Linked DNA regions of Homo sapiens: all the other regions are linked to region 2. The links come from fine-mapping of genetic effects on gene expression. A gene starts in region 2. Each other region holds a variant in brackets. All regions are shown on one strand. Distances are from middle to middle. Region 1 has its middle 38 kb from the start of TSKU. Region 2 holds the start of ACER3 (alkaline ceramidase 3). Region 3 overlaps ACER3 (alkaline ceramidase 3).

The links.
Region 1: its variant is fine-mapped to the expression of ACER3 in whole blood (TOPMed, PIP 0.90).
Region 3: its variant is fine-mapped to the expression of ACER3 in whole blood (TOPMed, PIP 0.94).

What each region holds. Positions count from the first base shown.
Region 1 is chr11:76,820,280-76,823,041 of GRCh38, forward strand. No RefSeq gene overlaps it. Among named protein-coding and RNA genes, the nearest start is that of TSKU, 38 kb to the left of the region's middle. The variant C/T (reference allele first, on the strand shown) is at 1,497.
Region 2 is chr11:76,859,172-76,861,933 of GRCh38, forward strand. It overlaps ACER3 (alkaline ceramidase 3), which reads left to right and starts at 1,747. Exons shown (of 11, transcript NM_018367.7): 1 at 1,747-1,908. The coding sequence starts at 1,806. RefSeq lists silencers at 1,420-1,519, 1,560-1,819.
Region 3 is chr11:76,884,138-76,886,899 of GRCh38, forward strand. The region is part of intron 1 of ACER3 (alkaline ceramidase 3); the gene reads left to right. Among named protein-coding and RNA genes, the nearest start is that of ACER3, 25 kb to the left of the region's middle. The variant G/T (reference allele first, on the strand shown) is at 1,323.

The DNA.
Region 1 (2,762 bases), 39 kb before region 2:
TTGTTTTGTTTTATATCTAGGAGGAGGTCCCTAGTTTGGAGAACAGGCTGTTTCATACCCAGCTTGAGACACAGCATTGGCACAAACCTTGCTGAGGAGCAATTTGGCAATATGTTCCCTATGCCCTAAAAATTGCCTCAGTAATTTCACTTCTGTAATACTCTTCTTAGGAAACAATTATAGGTAAGTAAAAGATTTAGCTACAATAATACTTATTTTGCTACTTATAATAGCAAAAATATTGAAGACATTCTAAAGATTCATCAATAGCATGGCTGTTTAAGTAACTTATGTCTCAGGACAGAATATTGGCAACCATTAAATTTCAGCTGCATGGCCAGGTGAGGTGGCTCACACCTGTAATCCCAGCACTTCAGGAGGTGGAGGCAGGAGGATTGCTTGAGCCTAGGAGTCAGAGACCAACCTGGGCAATACAGTGAGACTCATCTCAAAAAAAGAAGAAGAAAAAGAAAAAAAAAATTAAGCTGCACAGCTCTCCCTCTCCCTCTCCCTCTCCCTCTGCCTCTCCCTCTCCCTCTCCCTCTCCCTCCACGGTCTCCCTCTGATGCCGAGCCGAAGCTGGACTGTACTGCTGTACTGCTGCCATCTCGGCTCACTGCAACCTCCCTGCCTGATTCTCCTGCCTCAGCCTGCCGAGTGCCTGCGATTGCAGGCGCGCGCCGCCACACCTGACTGGTTTTCGTATTTTTTTGGTGGAGACGGGGTTTCGCTGTGTTGGCTGGGCTGGTCTCCAGCTCCTAACCGTGAGTGATCCGCCAGCCTCGGCCTCCCGAGGTGCCGGGATTGCAGATGGAGTCTGGTTCACTCAGTGCTCAATGGTGCCCAGGCTGGAGTGCAGTGGCGTGATCTCGGCTCACTACAACCTCCACCTCCCAGCCGCCTGCCTTGGCCTCCCAAAGTGCCTAGAGTGCAGCCTCTGCCCGGCCGCCACCCCGTCTGGGAAGTGAGGAGTGTCTCTGCCTGGCTGCCCATCGTCTAGGACGTGAGGAGCCCCTCTGCCTGGCTGCCCAGTCTGGAAAGTGAGGAGCGTCTCTGCCCGGCCGCCATCCCATCTAGGAAGTGAGGAGCGTCTCTGCCTGGCCGCCCATCGTCTGAGATGTGGGGAGCGCCTCTGCCCCACTGCCCCGTCTGGGATGTGAGGAGCGCCTCTGCCCGGCCGCGACCCCATCTGGGAGGTGAGGAGCGTCTCTGCCCAGCCGCCCCGTCTGAGAAGTGAGGAGTCCCTCCGCCTGGCAACCGCCCCGTCTGAGAAGTGAGGAGCTCCTCCGCCCGGCAGCTGCCCCATCTGAGAAGTGAGGAGCCCCTCTGCCCGGCAGCCACCCCATCTGGGAAGTGAGGAGCGTCTCCACCCGGCAGCCACCCCGTCCGGGAGGGAGGTGGGGGTCAGCCCCCGCCAGGCCAGCCGCCCGGTCCGGGAGGGAGGTGGGGGGGTCAGCCCCCCGCCCGGCCAGCCGCCCTGTCTGGGAGGTGAGGGG[C/T]GCCTCTGCCCGGCCGCCCCTACTGGGAAGTGAGGAGACCCTCTGCCCAGCCACCACCCCGTCTGGGAGGCGTACCCAACAGCTCGTTGAGAACGGGCCATGATGACAATGGCAGTTCTGTGGAGTGGAAAGGGGGGAAAGGTGGGGAAAAGATTGAGAAATCGGATGGTTGCCGTGTCTGTGTAGAAAGAAGTAGACATGGGAGACTTTTCATTTTGTTCTGTACTAAGAAAAATTCTTCTGCCTTGGAAAAAAAAAAAAAAAGAAACTGGTAAAAAAAAAAAAATTAAGCTGCACATAGGCAATTTTTTTTTTTAAATCTTTGATTCCTATCTCACATCTTATATAAAAATTAACTCAAAATGGATCACAGACCTAAATGTAAAACAAAATGTTGCAATTTTTAGGAAAAAACATAGGAGAAAATCTCTAAGATCAAGGACTAGGCAAAGGGATTTTTAGACTTCAGATCAAAAGCAGACTCCACAAATGAAAAAAATTGATAAACTGGACCTCATCAAAATTTAAAAGTTTGTTTTATAAAAGAACCTGTGAAAAAGATGAAAAATTAAAGTACAGGTTGAGCTAAAATAGTTGCAAACCACACATCCAACAAAGAACCTATATGTAGTATGTATAAAGAATTCTCAAAACTCAGCAGTAAAAAGAACAAAATCTCAATCAGAATATGGGCAAAAAAACATGAACAGATATTTCACCAAATAAAATATACAAAAGGCAAATAAGCACATTAAAAGATGTTCCACATAATTGGCCATCAGTGAAATGCAAATTAAAACCACAATGATGTAACACTACATACCTACCACAGCGGCTAAAATAAAAAATAGTGACAACACCAAATGCTGGCAAGAATGTGGAGAAAGTGGATCACTTGTGCAAAGCTGGTGGGAATGCAAAAGGACACAGCCATTCTGGAAAACAGTCTTATAATTTGTTATAAAACTAAACAATACACTCATCATACAACCCAGCAATCACACTCTTAGGCATTCATCCCAGAGAAATGAAGACATATTCACACGAAACCTGGACACAAACCTTCATAATAATCATCTGTAATAGTCAAAAAGGGGAAACAACTCTGATGCTCTCCAACAGGTGAAAGGTATAGAAACCATAGTATATCCATACTATAAAATCCTGCATAGCAATATAAAGGAACACATTATTGACACTTGTAAAGGTTTCAAAGGAATTATGAAATATATCCAATCCCAAAATGTTATATATTATATGATTCTA
Region 2 (2,762 bases):
CTGGGCGTGGTGGTGCACACCTGTAGTCCCAGCTACTCTGGAGGCTGAGACAGGAGAATCGCTTAAACCCAGGGGGCGGAAGTTGCGGTGAGCTGAGATCATGCCAGTGCATTCCAGCCTGGCCGACAGAGCAAGACTGTCTCAAAAAAAAAAAAAAAAAAAAAAAAAGATACACTGCTTCCCTAGGTTTTGCACCTAGCAAATAAAAGTTCTGCATCTATTTCCTGCTAATTGGCTATGGTTATTTTGTAGAAAGGCTGTGGGCTCTTCATCTCTCCTTGTCCTCTCTTTTACCTTTGACTTGCACCACATCTGACTTATTTATTTAGAAAATAGCAGTTGTATCATCCTTCATTTTTACTCTTCATTTCTTACTGTGTATTCAGGCAGAGTCCTAATACTAAGACCATAAAGAAGGGAAAGCAAGGTCTCTGATCAGGATGTAGCACAGTAGGATGTGAACAAAGGGCAAGGAAGCTCTAGGGTGTAAACATCTGGGATGGCTTCAGAGAGCTGGATTTTAAAAGAAGAGTGGGGAGTTGGTCAAACGGAGAAGAGAGTTAGGCTGTCCCAGTTGAACTGTGGGAGCAAAGGCAGGTGACCCAGCGCATTCTAGGAGAGGGGAAAGTTTGAGTTTGGTGTAGCTGAACACTAGGGGCAAGGGTGGTTGCATCTGTTTTAGGAAGAGCTCTCTGGCAGACCTGTGGAGTACTAGACTTTTTATTTATTTATTTATTTATTTATTTATTTATTTATTTAGAGACAGGGTCTCGCTCTGTTCTCCCAGGCTGGATTGGCACAGTCTCAGCTCACTGCATGCAATCTCCACCGCGGGGGCTCAAGTGATCCTCCCACCTCAGCTTCTCAAGTAGCTGGGACCACACGTCTGAGCCACCGCGCCCAGCTAATTTTTGTATTTTTCGTAGACACGGGGTTTTGCCGTCTACGATACTCCCAGACGGGGGCTGGGAGTATTAGACTTGAAGTTGGAAGTAGGGGTAGGCTGTTGGTTGCCTGAAGAGCAGGGCACAATTATAGTTAGAACGTGGAAACCTCTGTGCTTGGAGGCCCAAACGAAGCAGGGAAACTTTGCTTTAGTGCTCTAGCTAGCAGCATTCTTTTTTTTTAGGATCTCAGAACCTACTTTTTTTTTTTCGGTCCTGGGTTGTTCACCCTTTCCCTTTGTACCGAAGAGACACTTACACCTTTATCAGAAAATCACGGTTTATTTCCTGAGAATCACGGGGATTGGTTGGGGGTACTCTGTTTTGGGGCTCCATTTGAGGCCTGTGGCTCAATGGAAGACATAGAGGCGCTTCGCCGCACAGGTTTAATCAAGCAAGGGCTTGATAGAAGTATTCATCCCACCCCCGCCCCGATTAAATCAAACCACACGCACACAAATAGAGGCTCTGGCACATCCTGACAGAATATAGCCTCTGGGATGTCAGGAACCCCCAACCTACGGCCATTGGCGTGTCTGCACCGGCCAGGAAGCCCAGGCCCCCGGCTCCTTCCTGGATCACGCCCCTGCCCCGCCCAAGGGTGAAGAGGGGCGGGGCCAGCCGGCGCCCTCCGAGTGGGCCTTACACCAGGTCGGGCCTGGCCCGGCCCCGCGGCCCAGCGGCGCCGGTGGGCGGGGCCTCCGTCAGGGCAGTGTCAGTAACGGCGCCAGGCCCCGCCCCTCGGGGAGGCAGGGCCGGGCGGGGCGCGAGCGAGCGCGCGGGCTGGGCCGGAGCCGGCCTGGTCGCCAGCCTAACCCGGCACAGTGAGCGGAGCGCCTGGGCGGCGGCGGCGGCGGCGTGATGGCTCCGGCCGCGGACCGAGAGGGCTACTGGGGCCCCACGACCTCCACGCTGGACTGGTGCGAGGAGAACTACTCCGTGACCTGGTACATCGCCGAGTTCTGTGAGTGTGGCCTGAGGAGGGGAGTGGGGGCGAGAGGGCACCGGGCTGAGGAGACGCCGTGTGAGGAAGGCAAAGAGCGAACCTGGCCGCGAAGGGAGGTGCCAGGCCTGGCCCCGGGAGCTGGAATGCGGCGCCCTGGGCCAGCGGGAGGCTGAGAGGAGCGGGCCGGGAGTCCAGTGTGTAGAGGGAGGAGTACCGGGGTCTGGGAGGGAGGAAGGGGGCCTGAGGATTGGGGGGGCAGAAGAGCAGTGGGAAGTGGGGAGCCCCTGCTGGACCTAAGGGGGAAAGCCTGAAGAGCCGGGTTGGGAATGGGAATTCCTGCCCGAGAGCGGAGTGGGGCCAGGCTGGGAGAGTGGAGGACCCTGCCCCTTGGAATGAGGGCCCAGGACACCTGCTCTGCTGTTGCCACCACCAGAAGGGTACAGTTCCTAGCTTCGTCTTTCCCCCAATCCGTGAGAATTCTACCGTCTTTCCCTTCCCTTTTCACTGGAATATTAGACCTCCTTGCTCACCTCCAGGGAACAGTTTCACTAGTCTGAGATCTGAACCATCCCACCCCTATCCCCCAGGATGTCTTCAAGTACCAGAGGTCATCTGCTCTCTGAGTATGATTATTCAACTGTCATCTTGCACCAGGAGTCGAAGGCATCTTGCACCTAGCCTGTACCTTCTGCCCCTGCCAGGCTCCCAAGAGCACAGAGGACCAAGTCCCTGCTCCATTCTGTCCTATCCAACTATCTAGGAGTTAGGGGTCATCTGAGGACACTACTTCCACCGACTGCACCTTCTGAGGATTTAAGCATTCTTCTTTAGCGGCTGCTCTGTCAGGCACTGCTGGTCAGGTTGGGCTTGTT
Region 3 (2,762 bases), 25 kb after region 2:
AAGAGACTGTGAGCATGTGCAGTTTTTTATTCGGCGGTAGACTCAAAGATTCCTTGCAAATTTTGGGAGCTCTTTCTCTGCAAGACTGCTGTGCTATGCTTGGATTTTTTTTTTCCTTGCACCAAAGTCTAGAAATACTTCCTCCAGAAAGCTGAGTTTACCTCATTTATTTCCCTTTTCTCAGAGATCACATTGCTCTGCTACCTAGTTGTTCAATGCCTGAAAAGAATTTTTTCATAGCATTTGCCCTCTTTTATGCTTGTTAACTGCAAGGGAAAATCCAGTCCCAAGTTACTCCATTATGGCTAACAGTAAAAGTCCCCCAAATCATTGTAGTGTTCTTATGTTCATTAGTTTTAATATCTATTGGATCAAGCCCATTGTGATGTTAAAGTCTTCTGTAACTCTGCTGATTTGTACAGGGGGAGCATGTGAAGGTTGCTTCATCTATTAAACATTAAGATAGGTGTATTAAAATCTTCTACCATGTTGGTGGATTTGTTTATTTTCTTCATTATTATTCTGTTAGTTTTTGCTTTAAGTATTTTGAGGCTATGTAATTTAGTGCAAATATGTTTAGGATTATGATGTCTTCCAGGTGAATTGGATTCTTATTTTTCATTTTTCTTTTTTAATTTTTTTTTGAGACAGGGTCTCACTCTGTTGTCCAGGCTGGAGGGCAATGGCACAATCATAGTTCACTGCAGCCTTGACTTCCTGGGCTCAGCTGATCCTCCCACCTCAGCCTCTGGGATAGCTAGGACTACAGGCATGTGCCACCATGCCCAGCTAATTTTTTTGTATTTTTAGTACAGATGGGGTTTTGCCATGTTGCCCAGGCTGTCTCAAACTCCTGGGCTCAAGTAATCAATCCACCTGCCTTGGCCTCCCAAAGTGCTAGGATTATAGGTGTGAGCCACAAAGCCCAGCCAGATCCTTCTTTTTCTAATGCTTTTTGTTTTAAAGTTCTTTTGGTTTGAAGTATTTATTATCGTTTTTTATTCTTTACTTACAACCTTTCTGCATTCTTATATGTTATTTGCATGTACTATATGCTAGGCACTTAATTTAAAGGTGCCTGGGATTTGTTTTAATCAGGTTTGTTTAGACACAGAGACACAGAAATGACTGTCATGAAGGAAGAAGTTTTTTTTTTAAATTTTACTGTAAGTTCTGGGATACATGTGCAGAACATGCAGGTTTATTACATAGATGTGCATATGCCATGCTGGTTTGCTGCACCCATCAACCCATCATCTAGGTTTTAAGCCCCGCATGCCTTAGGTATTTGTCCTAATGCTCTCCCTCCCCTTGCCCAGGAA[G/T]AAGTTTTTATACTCAGTTTCCTAGAAACAGGATGAATAACACCATGTAGGGCCACTTGGGAAAGCACCAGGGTCAGTCGGGGGGCAGAGGAAGTGGGGAGAAACATGGGCATACAGCTTTATTCCTTCCTGCAGGAAGGAACAGGCAAGGCATTATGAGTCAGCTTAGGCTTGGCTAGTTTTGAGTAATTTCAGTGGGCGCTGGGATGTAGGGGCTGCCACTAGTTGTATGGTACGTGACCCTGGGGTAATTTGGGTAGGGGAATAGTAGCCTAGCATGTAAGAGTCTGATAAATGAGGTAGTTGGGACTATGGGCTCCGGATTGTTTGGTTTGCATATGGAAGGTGCACTCCTTTGCTATCTGGCTAGCTCTGGGAGGAGCAATTCCACCAGGGTAAGCAAGGCCCCAGATGCCAAAGCGTAAAATACAGAAGCCAGAAAACGTGGTTATCATAGCACTGTTCTAGGTACTTGTTCATAATGGCAGTGAGGAAAGCAGATAAGAAAGCCGTTGTCGTGAGCATGCATTCTAATGAGAGAAGATGACAAATAAACAATTAACCAAGTATATAAGTGTTTTCTAATTGTGATAAATGCTGTAAATAAAACTAGGTAATATAATAGAGAATGGCTGGAGGACTTCTTTAGATAGGGTAGTTAAGGAAGGCTTCTCTGAGTTGGTGGCATCTGGCATAAGCCCTGAAGAATGAGATGGCGCATGTGGTAATCTGGGGTAATGATGTTCCAGGCAGTACTGCAAATGGCCCTGTGGCTGGAATAGACTTGGTTTGGTCTAGGAACTTTGGGAAGATTAGTGTTTTGGAATGATGGGCAAGAAGGCAAGTAATTAGAAGAGATAGGCAGGGGTTGATTGTGTTAGCCTTGTAGACCATGGTAAAGAGATTGGCTTTTATTTTATTTGCAGTTGAAAGCCTTTGGAGTGTTTTCAGCCAGGAGAGTAAACTTTTTATACTCAGTTCAGAACAAGTCAGGTAGAAATACCATTGACAGTATAACACTTAGGAGATACGTTAGCATGTTACAATTATATGATTGAAAAGGAAGATGTTGTTAAATTGGAAACGTTTTCATGAAACAAATGGCTGCAAAGGAGGATTTTGATCATAGTGGGAGACTAGGATTGATGAAGAATGAGAATGGAATTTCAAAGGAGAGAAATCATACAAAGCATGCCTAGGTACTCAAGGTACTATGGGGGTTTTGCTGTTATTGTTTTTGAGACAGAGCCTGACTCTGTGGCCCAGGCTGGAGTGCAGTGGTGCCATCTTGGCTCACTGCAACCTCTGCCTCCTTGGTTCAAGCGATTCTTTTGCCTCAGCCTCCCAAGTAGCTGGAATTACAAGTGTGCGCTACACCTGGCTAATTTTTGTATTTTTTGTAGAGACGGGGTTTTGGCATGTTGCCCAGGCTGGTTTTGA